Regions from separate parts of the Homo sapiens genome. Here region 1 is linked to region 2. The links come from fine-mapping of genetic effects on gene expression. A gene starts in region 2. The other region holds a variant in brackets. All regions are shown on one strand. Distances are between the middles of the regions. Region 1 holds the start of ATP1A2 (ATPase Na+/K+ transporting subunit alpha 2). Region 2 holds the start of PEA15 (proliferation and apoptosis adaptor protein 15).

Evidence for each region.
Region 1: its variant is fine-mapped to the expression of PEA15 in tibial nerve (GTEx, PIP above 0.99).

Annotation. Positions count from the first base shown.
Region 1 is chr1:160,110,024-160,122,177 of GRCh38, reverse strand. ATP1A2 (ATPase Na+/K+ transporting subunit alpha 2) reads right to left here and starts at 6,419. Exons shown (of 23, transcript NM_000702.4): 1 at 6,305-6,419; 2 at 1,168-1,272; 3 at 927-986. The coding sequence starts at 6,316. RefSeq lists enhancers at 6,145-6,928, 7,681-8,299, 8,920-9,539, 9,540-10,159, 11,908-12,154. The variant GTTTGTTGAAACA/A (reference allele first, on the strand shown) is at 6,496.
Region 2 is chr1:160,199,141-160,211,294 of GRCh38, reverse strand. It overlaps PEA15 (proliferation and apoptosis adaptor protein 15), which reads right to left and starts at 5,911. Exons shown (of 4, transcript NM_003768.5): 1 at 5,773-5,911. It overlaps CASQ1 (calsequestrin 1), which reads right to left. Exons shown (of 11, transcript NM_001231.5): 10 at 11,370-11,444; 11 at 9,409-10,050. The coding sequence ends at 9,919. It overlaps PEA15-AS1 (PEA15 antisense RNA 1), which reads left to right and starts at 2,426. Exons shown (of 5, transcript NR_123725.1): 1 at 2,426-2,451; 2 at 2,908-3,038; 3 at 4,919-5,957; 4 at 6,161-6,224; 5 at 8,779-9,096. RefSeq lists enhancers at 540-1,206, 6,206-6,255, 6,606-6,705 and a silencer at 5,796-6,055.

The sequences.
Region 1 (12,154 bases), 89 kb after region 2:
GGAGATATACACCCACTAAATATTTGTCTGTTTGTTTGCTTGTTTCAAGATGGAGTCTCACTCTATCGCCCAGTCTGGAGTACAGTGGTATGATCTCGGCTCACTGAAACCTCCGCCTCCTGGGTTCAAGCCATTCTCCTGCTTCAGCCTCTCGAGTAGGTGGGATTACAGGTGCCCATCACTGTGCCAAGCTAATTTTTGTATTTTTAGTGGAGATGGGGTTTTGCCATGTTGCCCAGGCTGCTCTCAAACCGCTGACCTTAAGTGATCTGCCTGCCTTGGCCTCCCAAAGTGGTAAAATTATAGGCATGAGCCACCACACCCAGCATTTTTTGATTAATGATTTTTAAACAAATTTTTAATTGAAGGGCTTAGCAATTGACTGTACCAGTTACTGTTCATGTGACCTTGGGAAGTTACTCTCCCTCTCTGAGTCTCCTTTGTTTAATAAACAGGTCTGCAATACCTATCTCAAAGGGTTGTTGTAAAGATTAGAGAAATGTATGTAACGCATCTATCACAATGTCACATATGTAGCAGGGGCCCAGCAAATCACTGTAACCACAGGAATGGGCTGTCAGCCCATGTGCATCAGCTGTCAGCTCTGTGGAAGGCTGTGTGCAACTGAAGTTGCTTGGGGTATAGGGAAGGGCCCTGCCTGGAGGCCCTCTGGGGCCTGGGTCATAGGGAGTCCTGGCTTCTAGGGTATACAGGGAGAGAGCTTTGGGCTAGGATGCAGGGGATCCAAATTCTAGTTCTGGCTGTGCCACCAACTAGCTGCATGTCCTTGGGCCAGTCCTTGTTTCTGGGCCTCAGTTTCCTCATCTGTAAAGAAGGCTGGATTACAGTTTTAAGGCTCCTGCCACCTTGATGCTGCATGGTTTTCTTGCCTCTTTTGTTCCTTCCCTAGAAGCCCCTCCACTCACCTTGGACAGGTCCACTTGGTATTTGCGGCCCAGCTCATCCAAGGACAGCTTGTGGTCATCCTGGGGAAGGGAGGGTGAGTTACTTTGGGGAGGAGGTATCTAAGATGCATATGAGGGTACTGCAGGGCACAGGGGTGAGTTGAGCAGCATGGGGGACACGGAGTTTCTCTGAGTGCAATGGGCTGCAGGGACAGCTCTCCCAGCATGGGGCCCCTCCTCCATGGCCCAGCAGTTCCCTCACCATTGCCACCTCCTTCTTCAGCTCATCCAGTTCCTTCTCCTTCTGTTTCTTCTTGCCGCCCCCATTCTCTGCCGTGGTGGCGGCAGGTGAGTACTCACGGCCAGCCTGAGGGAGGAAGGGAGAGCCAGAGAGTCAGGGAAGAGAGGGGCTGGGGCCTCCATTCCCACCACTCAGCCAGGGAGCCCAGGCAGTGGGGGTGTGTGTTCAAAAGCAGCGGCTGCCTTGGGGGAGATAGGGGGGATGGAGGGTGAGGGACCCTAGGCCCTCAGTTTGTAGACTATTGGCAGAACCAGGGGCTCCCATGTGAGTTTCAGAGAAGGGTGAGGGGCTCAGGACTGAAAAGCACCACTTGAGTGGTTTAATGCTTGGGCTTCTGCTAAGATTTTGTTTGTTGAAAGGACCCTGCTGCTAAATACAAAACAAAACAAAAATTTTGAAAACCTGTATCCTACACTATTTGGGAAAATTCTGGAAGGGAGTGGACAGGGTTTTGTGGGGGGTTGTTGAGGGAGTAGAATCACTCTGTAGGAATGTCTTAGCCCAACACCATGGCAATTTTACTTAGAGAGGGGTAGAAATACTCAGGAACTTGGGGGAGCAAGAGTCTTTGGGGAGCCAGGGGATTAGGCAGGAACGTGTCCAGAGGAGAGCCAGGTCTGGTGGTGGAATGGTAGGGATGGAAAGAGCAGGCCTGATGGACTGAGAGGAGGCAGTAGCTGGAGAGTCAGGGCATGTCCAGGAAGTGGAGACATGGGGTGTGCTGGGAGCCCTCTCCATCCTGCTGGGCAGGCCTGCCCGTTACTAGACGGGAGGCAACTCACAGGACTGGACCCCCAAAGCACAATTGGGTAACATGGGAACTGAGCCCCATTTGTCCCAAAACATAAGAAATTGTATCTGAGAGTAAATCTAAAACTACATTTTATATAGTTTTTAAGTCTAGACATTCCTGGGTCATCTGGTGAATCAGATGGCCTTTTTTTTTTTCTTGAGACAGGGTCTCACTCTGTCACCCAGGATGGAATGCAGTGTGCAATTTCAGCTCACTGCACCCTCCGCTTCTAGGGCTCAAGCAATACTCCCACCTCAGCCTCTCAAGTAGCTGGGGCCACAAGCATGCACCACCACGCTCAGCTAATTTAAAACAATTTTCTTTCTTTCTTTCTTTTTTTTTTTTTTTTTTAGATATAAGGTCTCACTATATTGCCTGGGCTCAAGTGATCCTCCCACCTTGGCCTCCCAGAATGCTGGGATTATAGGTGTGAGCCACTGCGCCTGAGCAGATGGACATTTTAATTGTAGTCTTATGAGGCTCCTGATTTCCCTTCCACTCCAGGGCCTGTGGGCTCACCACTACCAGCCTTCCAGGGTCTCACAGGGAACTTCTTGGGGACAGGGTGGGAAATCTTTCCTTCTAAGAGGAGGCCCTCTTGGGGTGATAGAATAGGATAGAGGCTGAGGAAGGCCTGGGTAGCCATGAAAAGTTCCCAAAAAGGTACCTTCTTACTTCCTCTTCTGCCCCAGTCTTCTCTCCTCCCACTTCCCTCAGGAAATAGAGTCCTTGTCATAGAGGGGCTGCTCAGTTTCCACCTGGTGCCTATTTCTCCACTGGATTCTGCAAAGTCTGCACTAGGCTTTCAGGAATTAGTTTTCCCACACTATGATGTTAACTTTTGTTTCCCATAAAGAGTGGATACCTGGGTAGGGTCCACAGCCAAGGTGTTTGCTTTTTTTTTTTTTTTTTTTTTTTTTTTGCAGGATAATGCAGTTTTGGGGGTTTTGTTTGCATTTTAAAAAATATACTTTTTTTGGAGCAATTTTCTGGTTCACAGCAAAATTGAGTGGGAAGTAGAGAAAGTTCTCATATATCTCCTGCCCCCACACATGCACAGCCTCACCCACTATCAACACCCTGCATCAGAGTGTTACATTTGCTGCAATCATGAACCTGCATTGATACATCTTTATCGTCCAAAGCCCATAGTTTAAGTTTGAGTTCACTCTTGGTGTACATTCTATGGGTTTGGGCAAATGTATACTGACGTGTATCCGCCATTGTGGTATCATATGGAATAGCTTCACTGCCCTAAGACTTTTGTGCTCCAGGGTAATGCCTTTTTTACTTATCAGAGTCAGGAGCAATCCCAGAAGTATGGCAGCTGCCTTGTTCATAAGAGGTCGCCAATTCAGCATCTTGAGAGGTAGAAGTCTGACCAGTACAATCAGAAGCAAGGGTAGGGGTGGGGGATGCAAGGAGAAGTCAACACTGTTGTTCCCAAGATACCAATGATTTAAAAAGATATGAGCTTTTGGAGGCTGTGTTGCTCAGAAGTGCTCTTCTCAGAAAAGGTGACCAGTAAAATCGTGGGTTTGTCTCCACCTGAAGCATCTATGAATCTGGTATAATTTTGGCCTCCTAAAGGCAGATCTTCTTGGGGAGACCGAGCAGCCCAATGGAAGGGGTGGGGAAAGGCTTGTGAGTGGTTCTGCCTCTGCCTTTCTCAGGTGACCTAAGAGGATTCATTTAATTGAGTGGATTGAAATGCTTTACATTCACTAACTGTCTGTGGTGGGACAGAGCTGAGAAAAGGAAGAAATGCAATCAAGGGAACAGAGGCAAGAGATCAGGCTGGCTGAGCTTCAGTGTGACCCTCAGGAACTTCAGGGACAGAAGGGGGCCCAGGCATACACAGAGGAGCAGGGCTGGGTCTGTGGGCAGAAGAGCAGGGTGCAGAGGAATTTCTGTATATTCAGATGTGAAATAAATTTCATAAAAATTGGAATAAAATGCATGCTTTTTAAAAACTTGCTGGTCCATGCACTTTGGCATGCTGGATTGTGGCTGAGCTAAGCAGCTCCACGCAGTGCCTCCTTTTCCCAAGCTCCCGCCCTGCTCTCCAGCAGGCTTAGAGCTTGAGACACACTGCCCCTTCCCCCTCCTCCTGTCCTGGCAAAGATCTCAGGCTCTGCAGCCAGGAGCCTGCAGAGATTTGGGGCCAGCGGCTGCCCAGGCAAGAAAGAAAGAGAGGAAGCAAGGACCCCCCCAACCTCCCTCCACTCCTCCCTCCCCCAACCACAAGTCCCCCTCTCTGGGTCTTGAATGCTGAAGGAGAACAGAGAGTCCTTTTTGAGAAAGCCAGAGGCTGGGACAGAGTGGGGGCAGCTGGGAATCCGCCAACGCTCCCCCCATCTCAGCCTCTCCGTGGTAGCTGGAGCAGGCTGGGCTCCCTCCCACCAGTGTCGTCCCTTCCCCCAACTCCCACGCTGCCCTTCACAGCCACTGGGTAATGGGGGGACAGTGAAGCCTGCCTCTGCAGTGGAGATGCAGGGGAGAAGGGATTGGAGGAAAAATCATCCCTAGAACAGGTTGTGGGTGTCAGATGCCTTCCCTCTTCAGGGGTCGTTGGTAGGTTGAACTCTAAGCTCCAGGCCCTAAATACCCCCACCTCACCCAGCCTCTTAGTTTAAACAGCCCAGATCTGCTCCTCATCTTGCTATTGCATCACCCACAGCAACTTAGGATGGTGATTAAGGGGAGTTTGGGGGTGCTAGGGGAAAAAGACAGACTGGAAAAGTCAAGGTCTCATCACTTCCCAAGCAAGACCTCCTGAGCTGGGTCTACCTTGCTCTAAGATGGAGCAGGGTAGGGGGCTACCTCCCCTCCTTCTCTCTTCACTTGGATGGGGGAAATGGAGGGCTTATCTGATCCTTTAACCCCTGCCTCTTCTCAGAGGTCCTGCATCTCAGCTAGGGATGCCCTTTCCATGGGGAGCCAGAGATGTCAAGATGCAGCTGAAGGTCCCAAGACAGTATATCTTCCTGCAGCTATGACCTCTTCCTCCGTGAAGCCCATACCTCACAGCTCCTAAGGGCAGGCTCACAGACTCTCAAGCACCCCCACACAGTGACATTTATGCTTGTGCAGGCTTGAAGGCTTGTACATTTACAAATTTGCCTGCTGAGACACAAACACAGGTACTCATCCATGAGTAACTGCAGGACTCCCCGCCTATGGAGAACACGTGGTCAAGGACACACACTCACACACACACAGACACAGACACACAGATACATGCATGCACTCCAATTCTATTTATGGCTCCAACCCTAGCTCAGGAACCCTGGTGTCCAGGCTCAGGATTTCCCAGCTGCTCAACTAGGTGCAATAACATGTCCTTGCCTGACTCCTCCTGGGCCCAGAAACACCCACGGCTCCCCCTAGGCACAGTCTTCCTCATACCCTCCTGTTCCGCAGCATGCCCTTTCCCTCTGTGTCCTCTTTTGCCAGTATTCCACAAAAGGAAAGCAGCCAGGCACAGCATGTAAAAGGATTGGGCCACTCTTCTCCATATGGGAATTTCATTTCCAAGAATTCAAAGCCCTCTCCCTGCCCGCCCCATTGTTGTTAATCTTCCTCTTGGTGTAGCCATTGCTGCAGAATGCCATGGACGGGTGGACTGGGGGGGGGGTCACCTGTCACCAGCCTCTGGGAAAGTCCTCAAAGCCCATGGCTTGGAACCCACGGACAATGCTGCTCGGGACATCCGGAGGGGTGCTGGGGTGGGGGCTGGGTCATCATTCTTCCTCCCCACACCCCGCCCAGCTGTCCTTGGCACTCAGGGCCCCTGGAGCTGGTGTCCGGAACTACTTGGTGACTCTGGGAGCCGGATGCTCTACTGCCCCTCTCTAACCTCAAAATGGACCCCCAGCCTCTCAGGCTAGGACTCCCAGAGGAATGGATATTTTCAGGAGGTGGCAAAGACAGGAGGACTCACAGTGCCAAACATCCTTTCAGCTGGGAGGCCGGGAGATGCAGTGAGAGGAGGGACTGCTGCAGGGAAGGACTAGAGATGTGGGAGTGGGGTGGAGGGAGAGATGGAGGGGGCATGTGTGGTGGGCTGTGGGTCTAACTGTGGGCAGGGGGCTGGGGCGTGCAGAGGAGAGGAGAGCACTAGGGTATGTGACCGCCGTGGGATCTGTACACACATTGGTAGTTTGGAGACTGTTAGTTTCAAGTTCCAAGTATCCCACTCAGCTCCTCTCTCCCGCTCCTTCCACATCCCATTCCCACTTCATCCTTCCTCAGCAGCCTCCCTCACCCTCTAGACTGCGACCCCTGCTCTTTAGGGATACTCACCCCACGGCCCATCTTGGGGCAGAGTGGCTGAGGGACCTTAGCGGGAGAGGTCACCAGGAGGATCCCAAGCCCACACCAGCCCGTCTGGGACAGTCGGAGACCCTGGCAGACAGAGAAAGCCAAAGCAACAGGGTAGCTTTAAATAGGTCCTTCTCCCCCTCTCCCCCGCCTTCCCCTCCTCCGAAAGAAAC[GTTTGTTGAAACA/A]GGATCCCTGAGGACTCCTCCCCTCCCGCCCCTTTAGCCACTGGCCCTAGACAGCCCGTTTGTCCCACGGCATGCCCCCCCTTGGCTCCTCTCAACCCCCTCTGGCCTGTGGCACTCACAACTGAGAGAGGCTGCAAGGGAAGGGGGCCTGGGTCCCAGGTTGGGGGGATATGCCCCCTTGGATCTGGCTGAAGGGGAGCAGTTGACTCAGAATCCCAGGATGACAGAGACCATGTGGCCTAACTCTTCTTTTCCAAGTGGGTAAACTGAGGCTCAGAGAGATTAAACAATTTGAATTGATAAGACAGAGCCAGAACTCAGGTCTCCCGAGTCTACATCCAATCTCCCAGAGAAAGAAAGAAACATAGACCACTCTGTTCCTTCTATTATAGAGGTTGCAGGGACACTGAAGCCCAGAAATAGAATTTGAACCGAAGGCTGACCTCTGCACTTGAGGCACCTGGAAGGGGGGCCCAGGAGGAGTCAAAGGTGGCTCGGGAGGCAGCGGGAAGTTTGGAGATGGAGGCAAGAGGGTGTCCCCAAACCCTGCCAGATGTAACCTCTCCAAAGTTTTGAAGGAGAATCAAGACTCTGGTAGGGAGGGGCAGGCCAGGGCTAGAGGGGAACGGGTGGGACTCCTAGCAGGCACCTGATGACATCTCTGGGTTTTGTTTACCCCTCGTTTACCGTTTCATTGCTGTTGAAGAGCTCTAGACTGAATCTATGCCTGAGTAGAGTAGTGATAGGGAGAAGTCAAAAGAGAGGAAAATACAGAACCTCTAAGATGTGTGTGAAGGTCAATATCATAGCAAATATCAGACATGTGAACGGGAAAGGAGAGCGACTGTTTCCTTCTTCCAGTGGGGAAGGGGAAGCAAAGCTGCAGCATGCAGGACTGAGGCTGGAGAACAGGCCTCTCTGCAGTGAAGTGGGGGAGATTGGAAATGTCTGAGGAGTGAGGATGCCCATCAGAGTCAGGAGCAATCCCAGAAATGCCTAAGGCTTTGCCTGGGGCTGGAAAGGGTATCTTTAACCTTATACCAGCTAGAAACTGGGGACAACGAGATGACCCAGGACAGGACCAGCTGGTCTAGGGGTGTTGTTGCTGCTCATTTGATGAGTAATCCAAAGGATGAGGGGCACAGAGAGGAAGGGGAACCCAGAAGGGGCAGAGAGAAAAGAAAAAATTCTGCTCCCGCCTTCTACTGGGAACAGTCAGAGGACAGGATTCCCCTGGAGTACCCCTGTTTCTCTGGGCACAGAGATGGAGTGAGGGGAAGCCAGCGGAGTGGGGCAGGTCTAAGTGTCCTGAGTGCAAAGAAAGCAGAGAGGAAGGGAGGGAGGGAAGGGGGGCTTTGGCCAGAGGCCTAAGGTGCCTGCTGGCTGGGCTGGGTCCATCTCTGGCCCCAGAGGGAACTCCCTGCAGAGGGATTATCAGCCTCTCCTCTAGCAAATCCACTCTCAGGGCACAAGGCTAACATCTGAATTCCCTAAATAACTGGCCCCCTCCGGGCCTGCAGTTGAGATTTTCCATTACAGGGACCTGGTAGGTCACATCTCACTTCCACGCTCCTTCCCTCTCTGGGTTACAGTCAGAAAGGGTGGGTAGGATGGGGCCAACAGGGCCTTCTCATGGCCCCCCTCTCCGAGCTCAGATTTGGTCTTGGGAGAGAATGGGCAGAGGGAGGAAACAATGAAGGGAACAGATACCAGTTCAGCCCCTGTGTGTTAAGGAGAGAGTGAGAGGGGAGTAGCGGGAAAGCCTGTGGTTAGACACCAGGAGAGACTGTCTAAAGCAAAGTCACTCCAGAGTGGCCCCGAGGCAGCTAGGGAGATCAACATTGGGGCAGGCTTGCCTGGGGGCTGTGGGAACAACATGATAAATTGGGGTTTAGGAAGCGCCTGTTCCGTAGGTTCCTGGGTTGGAATTCCTGGGTAATCTTCTGCCCAGCCCTCTCCAGAACACAACCTGAGATAGGAGAGAAAACGTCAGTCCCCGAATCTGAAGGTGTGCAAACCTCAAGCACTCTAACAGTTTTCATCCCACCCCTCACCCCTGCTGGCACCTCCCAGTACTGCCCAGTCCTTCCAAAGGCCCTGGCTCTGGTCCCTGTGGCCAAACTCAATACCGGAAAGGATGTGCCCTTCCTCTGCCCCTACAGCCTGCTGGGGCTCCCTGCCATGCCCTGCATTTGGGCGAGAGCACAGCCCGAGGGGCGCTGCTGCTCACATATTTAGGGCTCAGAGAAATCAAAGAGTGGGCAGGACACCCAGGGCCTATACTTCCACCGTGCATCACTGACCACCCTCCTTGCCCAGTGAGAGCTGAGGCTCTGGAGTGGTCTACCTCCTTCTTGTCCACCATGAACCTCAGCCTCCAGGATATTAACAGGTGTAGACACCTGATCGTTTGATCTGGAGTGCCTGGGTTGGGCTACTGTTTCTTCAGACACAGTCAGCAGTACCAGTTTGGATCAAGGCCCTTGGAGTAAGAGGAGCAAAGGAGAGAGAAAGAAAGACTTGAAAGCAGGAGGATGGAAGGCCAAGATGCCTGGGCTGGGGAGTGGGCTGAGAAAGTCACAGATCAGGAGGGGGATCCACCAAGGGCAAAGTGGGGATGGAGTGGTCCTGAATCAAATATTTGGTTGGTAAGAAGTGTGTGTGTGTGTGTGTGTGTGTGTGTGTGTGTGTGTGTGTGACAGAGAGAGAGAGAGAGAGAGAGAGAGACCAAGACAGTTGGAGAGAGACAGGAGTGTGCATGTGCCTGTGTACAGATGTGTGCTAGTTAATGACTGGGAGGACCTGAGCGTTGGGTCCTGTGTGAGGTATGAGACGGAGTGGTGGTACCAAACCACATTCCAAAGGAGGAGCTCCTCAGGGGAGAGGACAACACTCATTCGGATGTGTGGCCAATCTGCTATGAATCGGTTGTCTGTATGCAAGCATGAGTACAGAGGTGCGTGTGAGTCCGTGAGTGCGCATCGCTTCTCGGCCTTTTGGCTAAGATCAAGTGTGGAGTCCGTGTGTGCGTGCATGTGGGCCATTGGGGAGCTCATGTGAAGCCGGGTGTGGGTGTACGTGAGAGTCCATGGGAGAATGTGTGTGTGCACAGGGAGGGGGTGGGGACGCTGCTCAGCTGCAGATGGGCTTTCAAGGTCTCCAAGAAACAGTTTTGTTTCCTAAGTGACTGGCCTCCTGGGGCCTCCAGCCCAGACTTGAAGGTTGTTTCAAGATCATGAAAGAGAGAGAGGAGGAGGGAGAGTGGGAGGGAAGGAAGAGCTGGGAGGCTCTATCACCCCCATCGTCCCTCCTCCCGCCCCGGCACCCCACTTCTCTCCCCCAGTCCTGATTTGGGCCCAGCTCTCCAGCCCTGCTCCTCTGGTCCTCCTCTCGGCTGCCAACCCCCCTCTGGGCATCTCTCCTTCTTCTCCTTCTTCCATTCCCTCTAACTCTCCTTTCTTTTTTTCTTTAGGGCCTGTGGTCTTGTCACTGCTATCAGGCTTCTGAGGTCTTCTGGGAGTGTGGGTGGAGTTTTTCTGCTTCCAAAGGGAGCCCACCTTGGGGGATGAGATGAGGGGAGCCGGGAAGGCCTGGACTGGCCATGACAAGTGTCCAAGAAAGATGACTTCTCACTCTCCCTGCCTCTCCAGCCCTCTGTCCTCCCACTCCCTCAGGTTATAGTGACCTGTTAAAAGGTTGGGATCAGCCAGGTGGGGTGGCTTATGCCTGTAATCCCAGCACTTTAGGAGGCCGAGGTGGGCGGATCATGAAGTCAGGAGTTTGAGACCATCCTGGCCAACATGGTGAAACCCCGTCTCTACTAAAAATATAAAAATTAGCTGGGAGTGGTGGCACATGCCTGTAATCCCAGCTACTCGGGGGGCTGAGGCAGAAGAATCGCTTGAACCAGGGAGTCGGAGGTTGTAGTGAGCCGAGATCGTGCCAGTGCACTCCAGCCTGGCGACAGAGCGAGACTCCGTCTCAAAAATAAATAAATAAATAAATAAATAAATAAATAAATAAATAAATAAAAAGGTTGGGCTCAGAGCCCCAGAGTGGCTGTCCAAGTCCTGCTGCTGTGTCAGTTTCCTCACTGGACTACAAGGATGGTGTTGAATTTTCTCCCCATCTCTCCTTTAACATCTGCTCCTCCGTTTTCTTTTTGGTCTTTCTTTTATTTTTATCTTATTTTTTTTCTTTATCTGTTAAACCATTCCTTCAACATGGTCTTTCTTTTCAGTCTACTCAAAGTAGATTCTAAAAATCTCTGCTGGCTGGGCGCGGTGGCTCATGCCTGTTTTCCCAGCACTTTGGGAGGCTGAGGTGGGTAGATCACCTGAGTCCATGAGTTCAAGACCAGCCTGGGCAACATGGTGAAACCTGTCTCTAATAAAAATACGAAAAAATTAGCTGAGCGTGGTGGCATGCACCTGTAGTCTTAGCTACTCATAAGGCTGAAGTGGGAGAATCACCTGAGCCCAGGGAGGTTGAGAGGCTGCAGTGAGCCAAGATTGCACCACTGTACTCCAGCCTGGGCAATCGAAGTGAGACCCTGTCTCAAAAACAACAACAACAACAACAACAACAAACAAAAAACAATAAACAGACAAAAAAAAACAATTCTTCTTCTCTCTCCCTTAAAAAAAAAGGACAGATTCTCACTCTGTCACCCAGGCTGGAGTACAGCGGCATGATCAACTGCAGCCTCGACCTCCTGGGCTCAAGCCGTCATCCTGCCTCAGCCTCCAGAGTTGTGCATCCATTGGCATGCGCCACCACACCCAGCTGGTTCTGTCATTTTAATCTCTCCCCAGAGTATTTTTATTATCCTCTTTATTGTTAAAACCACACTGTATAGAATTTAGAAAATAGGATGTAAAAGCACCCAGAAGCATTTTCCCCAGCCTCTGCCTGTGCTGCATTCCCACCTCCTTTCGTTCTTACTTCTCTCTGGATTCAGATAGCTCCATGTTGTGTTCTGCCTGTGCCTTCTTCACGTGGAAGTCCCAAGGGAGAAAAAGGAAAGGACCCATGGTGTAGCCCAGGGAACCCATGTCAACCCTTCCCAGGAGCATGAAGGCCTGGGCTATTCTGTGCCTCTGCTTTCCCTCCTGTCCTCTCACAGTCCCCACCGTGGTCCAATGCAATGGACTCTTGCCTGAAAGTCAAGTCAGCTGAGGCTAGTCCTGCTGAAGCCACTAACCACCTGTGTGATGTTGGACAAGAGGCTTCTCTACTCTGACCTTGGCATCTTCATCTGAATGACAAGGAACGGGATGAGAAAATCTGTGAGTAATTCCAGCACTTTGGGAGGCACGAGGTCAGGAGATTGAGACCATCCTGGCTAATGCGTGAAACTCCATCTCTACTAAAAATACACATGCACACAAAATTAGCTGGGCGTGGTGGCAGACACCTGTAGTCCCAGCTACTCAGGAGGCTGAGGCAGGAGAATGGCTTGATCCTGGGAGGTGCAGGTTGCAGTGAGCTGAGGTTGCGCCACTGCACTCCAGCCTGGGTGACAGAGCGAGACTCTGTCTCAAAAAAAGAAAAAAAAAAGAAAATCTCTGAGGTCCCTCTCCAGTTCTGATGATCCCCAAATTCCAGGCTATTTCTGCCTCAGCGCACAGCTCAGCTCAGGTAAACA
Region 2 (12,154 bases):
TTTCTTCTGTTTTCCCCCTCTAACAGTAACCCTGGCAACAGTTCCCCTGACTGAGGAGGCGGTTACCATAGCAACCTGCTCCCGACTTTCTCACCCGCTCTCTCCAAGTCCCCCCTCAGAATCGCCCCACCCACTTCCAACCCCTCCCCATGTCAGGGAAAAAAAACTCCAAAACAACCAGGGCGAGGCTTGCTGTGGCAGTGAGAAGCTGAGAAAGAGCTGGAGGGTCTGGTAGGAACTCATGTGTTCTAGCTTCCCCATTCTGCCTCAAAGGCAAAGGGGTCCCTCACTTCAACTCCCCACCACCCCACTAATGACTCATTTTGGATAGATGCCTAGTTGCTTGGTCTGATGGTTCCTTGGCCCCACCATGCTAGCCTTGTATTCAGTCATTAGGGTTCGAGGTGGGGGAAGCAATGGACCACCCCCACCTTTGTGGAGCCCATTTTCTCCTTTGATGGTTACCAGGCCCCCACTCAGCTCTCTCTCCTACCCTTTGTGCTGTGCCTGCAGCCCCCGTGCCCAAGAATACCAAGCAACTGGCTCTGGCCCCCTGCCCAGTTCCCAGGCTGGCTGGGTGGTGGGGGGAGGGGACTTTAGATGCGGCTTTGGGAGAATGGCAAAAGGGGACTGCCCCCCCTTCTCGTATCGTATCAACATCCTACTGGCACTACCTTCAGCATGGTCTGATGAGATCAGCAAGGCCAGATCTCACCTAGGCTTTCACCCTATCCCTCTTTCATGATCCTTAGGTGAGAAGTAGAGAACATTCAAGGCCTTCCTTCCACTAAGATAGGAACTGTGGCTAAGACAGAAGAAAGAAGGTCAGATGTTTGAATGGACTTTCTGGATTTGATAAAATGTGACACTAGTGGTAAGCTCAAAAATGGAACTTATTTCCACAATGAGTATCTATTTCCTTTTAGTCAGAAAAGTAAAGCATGTTTTAAAAAGTAAATTGTATCATAAACACTCTGTATGCGACTAGACCAAGGGGTGGGCAAGCAGCAAGATGACCTTGTCCCTGACGGAGGCTGCCTGCAAATCACCCCAGCATTAGGCTGGGAATGTGGCAGATCAAAGGGGCTTGGTTGACACATTCACATTTTCCTTCTTGCTCTACTGCAGGGGAACTGAGATTGGCATGGTGGTCACAAAATAAGAGATACAGACCCAGAAGTCCCCATTCCCAGCCCCCTACCTGGACCAGAATAAACAAGCCTCCCTTGGTGGCAGGCACCATGACACAGGCAGACAATGAGCCAGACAGGAGGGCTACCATGACCCCCGCAAGAAACAGGCAGTCATAGGCATGCTCAGTTGCACACCCAGGTGCAACCAGACAGAAGGGCCCAGCAGTGGCCCTGCCAGGCCGGGCCAGGAACAATGCTCTCTGACTGTCAGCACCAGGAACTGTCTCTGCCTTGAAATCTAGGTCACAGCAGCAAGCTCTGGAGCCCAACCCCCCTCACTTCACTGATAATCCAAGGACAGAAGGAGGGGGGTACGGGTGAGGGGGATGATGGGGAGGGGACTAGAGATGGAGATAAGAATGAGTAGGGGGGCATGAGTACAACTGGAAGGGAAAGCGCAGCAGGAGACAAGAAGACCCTGCCCCAGTGGAGGAAACTCTGGGGCCAAGCCCTCAGCTGGAAAAGGGGGCAGGATTGGGGGTTATACTTCCCTGCTTTCATATGGAAGGAGAGTTTGTAAATATTACAGATCCTGCGGGAGGAAAGAGTGCATCTGTGTGTGTGTCTGTGTGTGTGTGTGTGTGTGTGTGTCGGGAGGAGTTCAGATTTAGGGCTTTGAATCTAAAACAGATCTACAGAGGAGGTAGGCGGGAAGAGATTAATGTGTGTAACACACTCACCCACAAAGACTTGGGGGCAGTGGGTAGGAGCTTTCTAAGAGAGTGAAAGATACAAGGAGGCCCCTAAGAGAGATGGGGGTAGGAATGTTAAAGTGGCAGAGGAGAAATGTGTGTGTGCTCGGATCTTATGGATGCTAATCCCCGGGTTGTGGGCACAGCTCTGGAGGAGGCAGTGGCTGGGTATCTGTGGGTGTGTTTGGATGTTCTGGTAATGGAGGTGTATGTGCCAGCACTGGATATATGGCTGTGGGTGCACTGGCTGTGAGTATCTGTCATGTGTGTGTTTGTATGTGTCTAAACCAGCCAAGAGCATGTGTAAGAAGGCATATAACCACAGGCTCACATCCAGAGGGGTGAGGGGAGCCTACAGAATGGAGAAAGAGAGCTGGAGTTGGGAGACAGAAAGAGACTAAGGCTGCAAATGAGGCATGGGGGGCGAGGGGGAGGAGAGCATACAGTCCACAACTATAGAAGGCTGTAGCCTCATCTCATCTGTTACTATAGCAACCTCAGTTCTGGGTGCCCCCCACCCCCAGTCGTTAGGATGACACCACTAGATGGGAGGAGTGTAGGGAATGGTGAGTAAGAAGGGACAGAAAGGATAGGAATAAGGCCCCCTGACGGTACAAGGAAAGGCAGCCCAGTTGCCTCCCTTCTTGGAGAGATCCATTTGCCTAGGCCTTAGTATGGCAGAAGAAGCAAAGGGAGTGTTGTTTAGGGGAACTGCTCTCAATTCTCACTGATCAACAGTTGTACCTGGGCTGGTCTGGCCTGGCCATGGTGGGGCTTGGCAGAGCTTGTTTCCTTCATCCTCCATGTCACTTTCCTCACCAGAGATTCAGATTTCCTTAGGGCTCGTGGAGAAATCTGCTCTCTGGGCTCTGAAAAATCCTCCTGATTTCTGGAGCAGTGCAGAGAGCTGCTCAGGGATCACCAGGCAGTCTGGGCGGAGGCCATTCTTGGGACAGGATACCAGGGCAGGAATCAGGAACCGGAGCCCCGGCTGCCAGGAAGTCAGTCCTCTTCCCTCCCAGCTTTCTGTGCTAGGCTCACCGCTTCCTCACACCTTCCTTCCTTCCTGCCTCCCTCTCCTTCCAAGCTGGCCCCAGGCACAGCCCTGACAAAGGTCAAACCAACTGAGGATGCTGGGGAAGAGGGGCAGGAGGTAAGGACCATTATATACTGACCTTTTAGGGTGGGACAGGTGGGAGCTCCATGGGCACTGGGGTAAGAAGAGCCAGGCCCTGGGAGTGCTTTGAGAAGCCTGGCAATTGGGATAACCACCTGTGGAGGAGGTGGCAGCACCAAAAGAATTTCTGTGCATTTTGACATTAAGTCGTGGTAGATTATCCCTTCTAACGTTTGGTTCCAAATCCTCTGTAAATTCGAGAAGGAAGCCTGAAGATTAAGAGTTGCTGCCCGTCCCTCTTCCACATCTGTTGCAGCTGCCTAAGCCTGAGGGGAGGGGCCATCCCAGACAGCTGCAAGGACCTAGAGGTCCCTGTATTGGGCAGGAGGGGACTCCCAGGCACTCAAGTCTGTCAGTCTTCTGCCTGAAGTTGGAAGTAATCACGGAGAGGCAGAGGGGTTGGAAGGGAGAGAGTAGGGGTCCAGCTTTCCTATTTTAAATTATAACTGGGCCCCAAATTCAAGCAGTCCTGTAGTTTATTTCCTTTAATATCATTCTCAATTAATTTCTTCTTTAAGCTTTTTATCCAGCTTTGTGGGGGAGGAGGGGGTTGTCTTTACTCCTGTAACAAGGAAATTGAGGGTTCTGAGGCTCCAGGGTCAGCCTGGAAGTGACGAGAGGCAGGACATCTGGGCCCTAAAATGTTCACTTCAGTCCAAGAAGCAAAATGGATTACCTTTGGGCATGGGGACAAGGATTAGCCTTCAGCCCTTGGTCTAGAAAGAGCCAGACCCAAGATGGGGCATCAGGAGATAGCTGGCACTGGATCAGGCAGAGCAGAGGAGGGCCGGCTGATGGCGAGGAGGGGAATGGGGCCTAGGACTCTCCCCAGCCCATCTCTGTTTCCACTCTTCTGGTGTGGCACTCCCTGCTTCTATTTCTGTCTCTCTCCATCTCTCTCACTCTTTGTCATGCATTTCCTTTCTACTTCATCTTTCAGTCTCTCTTTTCCTCCTTTCTATAGGCTTTCACCCCTTCTAGCATTTCCTACTCACCTATCCAACTTAGTGGTAGCCATGAATACTTAGGACTCCTGAGATCTGTGCTTCACTGTCCCCATCTGAATATTCGGAGCTGCAATTAGGAAGGGGTGAGCATCCCTGCTACAAAAGACAGAGTAAGTTTGGTCGGAGTGGCTTGGAGATTCAGTGGTTGGCTGCCTACCAGCTGGTGAAGATATCCATCATGACATTGTGCGTGAGGATCTGTGTGAGAGAGTGAGGCGCTCTGTGATTCTGTGACCCTCTTCATGCATGATAATACATCCACACATGATGGGCACGGAATTGAGGAAGTAGGCAACCAGGGAAGCCTGCAGCCTAGGGCATCACTGGCAATTTCCCCAATGGAGTATTTAACCACAAAGGGAAGAGCAATTAAAGCTAATCGCTCTGACAGCCTGGGGCCCAGACACACGTACCACTTTCCCTAACTCCCAGTGGTCTCCCCCAACCTTCATCCTCCCTAATTTGTTTAGTGCACTCTCAAACACTGTTTGCACTTCTCTGACCATCTCTTTCTCTCACTTCCTCCCTCTCCCTGGTTCCCTGACTATCTCTAGACCTCTCTGGAGATGTCTGTCTGCTTCTCACACACATTCCTCTCATTCTCTCTCTGACTTGGGTTCCATTCTTGGCTGACTCATACCCATTCTTTTTCCTCTCCGTTTCTTCCACCCCCTCCTCCTCCATCCCTTGGCCACTCTTACCCAGAAACTAGCCACTCCCAGCACGCTAAGCCCTAACTGGACCCAGGAAGAGAAGCCACCAGAAGCCCCTACCCTCATTAGTCCGCAAAATCCTGTCTCCTTGTGTTAGAGGAATGAGACCAAGATTTTCTCCCATCTTTCCCCACAGTTTTAAAGAGGAACAATCTGAAACCATGGGGCTGGGAAAAGCTGCCAGAAAATCAGGATGGATTTGGGGACAGTGGCCCTTTCTGTCCACTCAGCTGTCCTGTCGGACTGATGACTTGGAGCCCGCAGTTCAGAAGACTCCTCATGGGATGCCCCACCCCACAGAGTGGGGGTGTGGTGGGCGGCCGGATGCGTAGTCCAGGGACGTTTGTGATTTGGAGTGTGCTAGACTATGTGTATAAGTCACATGGGTGTGTGTCACTGTGTGTGCTGGCGTGCCTTATAGGTGTGCGTGTTTCCCTGTCAGTTTTGACACGGATTATATGAAATTAATAAGGGTTTTTACGTTAGATATACATCACTTCTCTACACCCCCAGCTCCTCCTTCCCTCTGGACAAGCTTTCCGCCAAGCCCACCTCTTCCCCAGGTGCAGTGAGCTGGGGGTGAGGGCACATGGTACCAGCCGCCCGCGGAACCGAGACAGGGCTGGGCCGGGAGACCGCCAGCGGAGGCGAGTCCGAAGCCTGAGCGGGGAGGGAGGGGCGGGCGCTGGCCTGGCCGAGCCGGCTGGGCGGGAAGCAGGCTGCATCCTAATCCACAGGCCCCGGTCCGACTCCCAAACTGCCGTTCAGCGTGGAACGGGCTGGCCGGAGCCACGCCGCCTCCAGCACACGCTCGGCGCTCGGGACGCACCGACCGAGGGACGGACCCCGTGAGGCCTGACACAAAGTGGACTCGTCCGGGGTCCCCACACTCCCCGTCTGGCCCCCGGTGTCCCAGATCGTTGCCCCTCCAAGCCTAGACCCCGAAATCTGCCCCTTCCCCGCGACATGTCTCCTCTCCGCCCCTCTCACCGCCTCTGGAGCTGAGCGCTCAGGGCGCGGGCACTCCTGAGTCCCCGGTTCCTAAGCAGCGTCCGGAACCTCCTCCTCGGCTCCCGCCGCCGCCGCCGCCGCTTCTGCCGCCGCCGCCGCCTCTTCCGCCCGCGGAGCCGGAGCCCGAGCCCAGCGCCGCTCACTCCACCCGGCTGGCCGGTGATGTCAGAGCCGGGGAGGGGCGGGGGGCGGGGAATGGCGGGAGGAGGGGGAGGGATGGAGAGGCAGGAGGGGGCGGGGGACCGAGGGGCTGGGGTTCTGGAAGACTCCTAGGATGGGGGACAGAATTGGGCGGAGGGCTGGAGCGGAGACGGTCTCTTCCCCCTGAACTGCGAAACAATTCTCATATTTAATTCTTACCCAGTAGGGCACCCTCCTCCCCTTTTGACCTTTGGATGACCACGGTGCCTAGGACCCCTGGGAGGCACAGAGTAGGTTTGGTTTAGGGGGTTGGAAAGCCTTTGGGGGCTGGATTCTCTTAGCTGCTGGCTTTAATATTTGTAAAAACTTCTTGCCTTGCCTTAAGGGTCAGGGGCGCAGTGGAAAATGACTGATCAGACTTATCCACATTGGGAGTGAGGGGTTGGGGCCACATGGGGACTTGAGGAGCCCTGGATCTTCTCTTTCCAGGATGATGCCTTCAGGCCCTCTTGCGTGCCTCTCACCTTTCCCAAACATGCCCCACTCCTGCCTTCCCCCTACCATGATGTAATTTTATTTTCTGGGGAGAAAAAGAGCAGCAGTGAGCTCAGCATGCAAATATAGACAACTTGCAAAGCCACACTTAGCTCCATCTCCTAGCTCTGCCCCTCTGCCCAGGCCCAATGTGGCAGCTCTCACTTCCCCTCTACCCCAGGGACTTTCCTCCCCCAGATTCTCAGCCAGACTGAAAAGAGGAAAGGAAGAATTGGAGAAGCATCTGTTTTCACCCCCATCTCTATAGCCTAAGGGGTCTTGCCTCAGCTCTGGGCAGGGTTTGGCCCTGGAAAGAAGTCTGACCCTGGGTAGGTCCTTCCTGCCAGGAACTCCAGCAGGCCCAGGTTGGGGGATTCCCCTCAGTGTTTGTGCCACTTCCAGGATCACCCATCTCATCTCAGTTCCTACCTGGCAGAGACTCCTCCAGAAACCTCAAACGAGCCCCTCCTTTCTTGGGTCTACACCATTCCTAGAAGAGGCCCAAGTTCCTGCTGCTCTGGGTTTCATAGCATTTCTCTGCTGTTTCCTCTCCCCAGCATTCCCTGTCACACACTAATCATTTGCCTTTGTATATATCATGTTTGCTCTGTGTTGTAGGGACAAAAACTATTTCGTTGACCCATCTTTGAGACTCATGTAGTTTCTAAGTGAAAGGCTCAGGTCTGGAGGCAACAAGACACAGGGGCCTTGGGCTGCGTGCTAGTTCCACCCATTCCTTGGGCAAGTTATGCCTGAAAGCCTTAGTGTCCTCACCGGTCAGATCAGGGTGCCAATGTCTATTTCTGAGGGTTCTTCTGAGATTCAGAAATAGTAAGTCTCTAGGGACTGGCACAGATGGGTGCTTAAAAAATAGGAGCTATTATTTAGACCGGGGCCTTCCACTGACCTATGCTAGACAGTAAGCTCCACAATATTATTGTAAGACTAGCTTAGTGCCCATACTACTTATTAAACATTTATTAAATAGCTACAAGTTGGAATGAATACATAGTTTCTGCTTTCTACACCCCTGCCACATTCTCTAGGAACACTTCCTGGACTTGTCTGTGGAGAGTGAAAATATATCTAATCTCAGGTCTCATCTTTCCGTACTTAGAAATCCTCTAAGTCTCTCAGCAACAACTTTACACCTGATCCATGAAAAATATAATGTTGGCTTGGCGTGGTGGCTCACGCCTGTAATCCCAGCACTTTGGGAGGCTGAGGCAGGTGGATCACCTGAGGTCAGGAGTTCAAGACTAGCCTGACCAACATGGTGAAACCCCATCTCTACTAAAACTACAAAAAAGTTAGCTGAGTGTGGTGGTGGGCACCTGTAGTCCCAGTTACCTGGGAGGCTGAGATAGGAGAATCTCTTGAACCCGGGAGTCGGAGGTTGCAGTGAACCGAGATCTCACCACTGCACTCCAACCTGGCAACAGAGTGAGACTCCATCTCAAAAAAAAAAAAAAAAAAGAAAAAAATATATATATATACACACACATATATATGTATATGTATATATATATAATGTTTATTATTTATGGGCATCATCTCAAAAATATATATATAATGTTTATTATTTATGGGCTTGTTTAGCTATTTGTATATATTATATATATAAAATGTTTATTGTTCATGGGCATCATCTCAAAACTATATATGTATATGTTTATTATTTATGGGCTTATTTAGCTATTTGGCCCTCCCATCCCCAACTCCCTAAACTCCTTTTTGCTTACCCCAGCCTGGGCCTATTCTGGAAAGACTGTGGGTCCTTCTTGCCAAGACCTCCAGCAGGCCCAGGTCTGGGAGATCCCCATTGTATACAATATCTCCTCTCCATTCCCATGGCCACCACTTGGGTCCATGTTCTCCCAACATCACTCCAATTATTATAACAGTCACTGATTATGGGTTGGGCCCCTTACCTCTGGCATCTCCATCATCTCCCCTCCCCATCCTGCTTATCGCTACCAGATTAAATTTTGCCCTGCCTCCTCGGCTGGCAGGATTCAATTCAAACAGCTCTACAACCCAGCCCCATTATGCTTACCCAACTTCATGGCCACAACTTGATTTTTCTTCTTGTCTCTCTGGTCTCTGTGCCCCCAATATGACAAACATATCCTGCCAGTACTTGATGTTTTCCACTGACTGAAATGTCTCCTCCTCAGCTCCTTTGTCTCCAACCAAATCCCATTCTTCAATTTAAGGCCTAGTAAAGGCTTACTTCCTTTGTGAAGTCATCAAGCCCACTCTGATCTCTCTTCTGAGTTCATTCTGTTCTTTCCTTTGTTCTTCCTTTAGGAAACATTTACTAGGGACAACTTTTGAGTGTCAGACCCTGTGGACACAAAGAAAAAGCTTGGGTTCCTGCCTTCAAGGGGCTCACAGTTGAGTGGGGAAGACAGACACGTAAATGAAGAACAATAACAGACTGTGCTGAGTACTGGAATGGAAGTGCAGCAGGAACTCAGAAGAGGTCATCACTGGAGGGGCCACCTCTGGGAAGGCTTCACCAAGGAAGTATAATTGGAGCTCTGTCTTGATGTTCAAATAAGAGCTGCAGAGAGGGTGCTATCGAGCAGCACATAATCACTTAATTACATATTGCTTTGTATTCTTCTTCGATTGTTTAGTATGCTTGTCTTGACTTCTCCGTGAGGCTAATCAGCTCAAGATCAGGGACAGGCCTAGCACTCTCTGTTCTCCCAGAGCCTAACAGTGGCCCTGGACAAACACCATGTGTTCAGAAAAGGCTTGTTGACTTGAAGCAGATTAACAATCCAGGCTTCTCTGGGAAAGCTGCCTGGAGGAACCCCAGTCCCCACTATAAGAGTCCCCCAGCTCATCCCTAGCAAGGCACCCACATCTGAATTCCCCATCAGTGGCCACCTCCTCCTGCCATAGGGGTGAGACTTCACCAAAATACACTTGTTCATGCTGCCCCAGATGTCTTTATTGAGGCCTCTCATTTGACCCAAATACATTAACAAGTGATTGCTGAGATACAGTCCCAAACACAGTATTCTCCCTTCCTTCTGGCCAAGGACAGGACAGTCAGAAAGATACAGGATTAGAGAGAGTGGGGGAAAGCTGTGCATAGATGGAGGGAACAGAACAGAGATGGGGCCCATATATATGGCTAGAGGAGAATCACAAGAAAGAGTATGGAGAGTGATGGAAGAGACACATAATAGATACAAGTAAGTTATGGGATAAGAAACAGAAGTCAGATAAGAGAGAGCTGGCCTGGTGTCTAGGGAAAAGTAGCTCATTTGCTCATCAAATGAGGGGGATCAGTGTCTCAGCACCCAGCATATAGACCCCAGTTAGCTCTATGGCAGAGAATAACCTAGTCTCCCTGGAGGAACTCAGGGAAGGACAAGGGAAGGCAGGAGAGAGCATGAAAAGACCAGTGGGGCTGAAAGATGGTTGCCATAGCAACTAGTCATCATCATCATCGTCATCGTCCTCTGTGTTGATCTCGCCCTCCAGGACATCCTCCAGCCAGTCCTCCAGCTCCTCAGCAGAAGGCAGGTCCTCCTCATCGTCCATTTCCATCCATACGCTATCCGCCTAGGAGATGGCACAGGCAGGGACGGAAGCTAAGTCCAACCCGGGTCTTAGGATCTGTCTTCCCACTCACTGGACTCTGTACATCCTTCCCTACATTCTCAGTCCCTTCCTTTCATCTGCCAAAGGCCAGGGAAACTGTCCAGGTGAAGGTATGGGTTATGGGTTAGAATAGTGACAGGTGAGAGTGGGAAGAAAAGTTGGATTGGCAAATAGACCTTCTCCCTTCAATCTGTCTCCCGTGCTCTTGCCACACTGAACTTCCCTATTATGCCTTTGGTGCAAAACCACTGGTAGCTCTTCATGGCTTATAAGAATAAAGTTAGCAACTCTTCGGCATTCAGGACATTTCTTTCTTTCTTTCTTTTCTAAAAGAGACATGGTCTCACTCTATTGCCCGGGCTGAAGCGCAGAGGGGCAGTCATGGCTCACTGCAGCCTTGAACACCTGGCCTCAAGTGATTCTCCCACCTTGGCCTCCCAAAATGCTGGGATTACAGGCCTGAGCCACTACCCTGGCCCCAGGGCTTTTCATAACCTGCTTTTCTAGTACCATTCTCAGTGATCTCTAGACTCTCAACCATAAAAATCCACCTGCCTTTTCCGGGAACCTGATATTCATTTTCCTGTTTTTAACTTTTGATCTTGCTTTTTCCTCAGTTTGGAAATGACTTCCCTGAATCATCACTTGTTGAAATCGTATACATTGTAGAATCTCCATTTTGAATATCACTTTTTCTTAAACTTTTCTCTGATTCTGTCAAGCAGAAATCAATGTGATCCTGTGTCTTATTTGTATCGTTATTATAAAGTTTATCAGATCTGGCCTTGTAGTTAATGGAACACTTGCCTCTCTAATTAGTCTGAGAATTCTATGAAAGCAGAGACTGTGGCTCATTCAGTTCAACTTAGCAGTTTTGAAGCACCTACTGTGTGTGCATAAGAAGACTTCTGCCCTGAACAAGCTCAAAAATCTACTGGAAGAGACACACATAATACATAAATAGCCATTTAAATGTCATGTTCTCAATGGCTATTGAGCCCTGGGAGTGCCAGGGAGGGAATGATTTTAAATGGGAGATCTGGAAAGACTTCACAGAGGAGAAAGAATTTGAACTGGGCCTTGAAGGATGAGCCACTGATTCCAACATGTGGGACAGGGCCACATTCAGATCCTAAGTCTCCCCCTCCATCCAGCCACTAGACTGGGCATGTCTGCGTCCTGTGAGAAGGGCCCAACTCCTAGTTAGCAGAGAGGAGGAGAGCTAGCTATGCTAGGAAGTAGAGTCGGGGGTCAACCCGGGATGAGGACAGGAAACTCACATCAGTAACATTGACGACTCCTATTTGTGGGGCTGACAAGTCGATGTCAAACGTCTTCTCCCAGTATGGGACCAGCTGTAGAGAGATCAAAATACAGCAACTTAATAGATACTAGGGAGCACATGAATCCAGGAGGATGAGTGTGAGGGTCAGCCCAGGGATGGAGAGGGGACAGTGCGAACTGGCAGTGGATGGGGACAGGTCCACCTGTGAGGGCATCAAGGCAAGGGTAGAACTAAACAACAAAAGAGGAGAAATCCTAAAGGGAGAGAATCGGGAGGGTCAGCTGGGTGCACTGGCCCCTCTTTTCTGAGGAAAACTGGATAGGAAACCCTGTTCTGATCCTGGATCAGATCCTTGTGTTCAAGGTCAAGTCACTTCTCTCTGGCCCTCAGATCTTACATTTCTAAAATAAGGCAAGTATACCTGGTAAGTGCCAATGTTTCTCACGTTTCTCTTTGTTCTTTCAGTTACTCATTCAACAGCGAGTGCTAGGTGTTGGGAATGTAGCTGAGAACAAAATCATCTCCTGAAACAGGGAATCTCTGTGCTATGATTCTATGATTGAGTGTGTATACCCATGTGCAGGACTATTGTGCCTCACAACATTGGTTTTCTTTAGGAGTCAGCCCTAGCACCTGAGCTACCCATCCAGCCTCTGCTCTGGGAATGTGTGTGATGTCCGTCCTGTTTCCCCTTGCTCAGGATGCCCTCCATGCCAACAGTGCCCTTAAGCATGCAACACGCATACCCTCCCAGGGCCCCCCAGCTAGGAGGTGGGGATG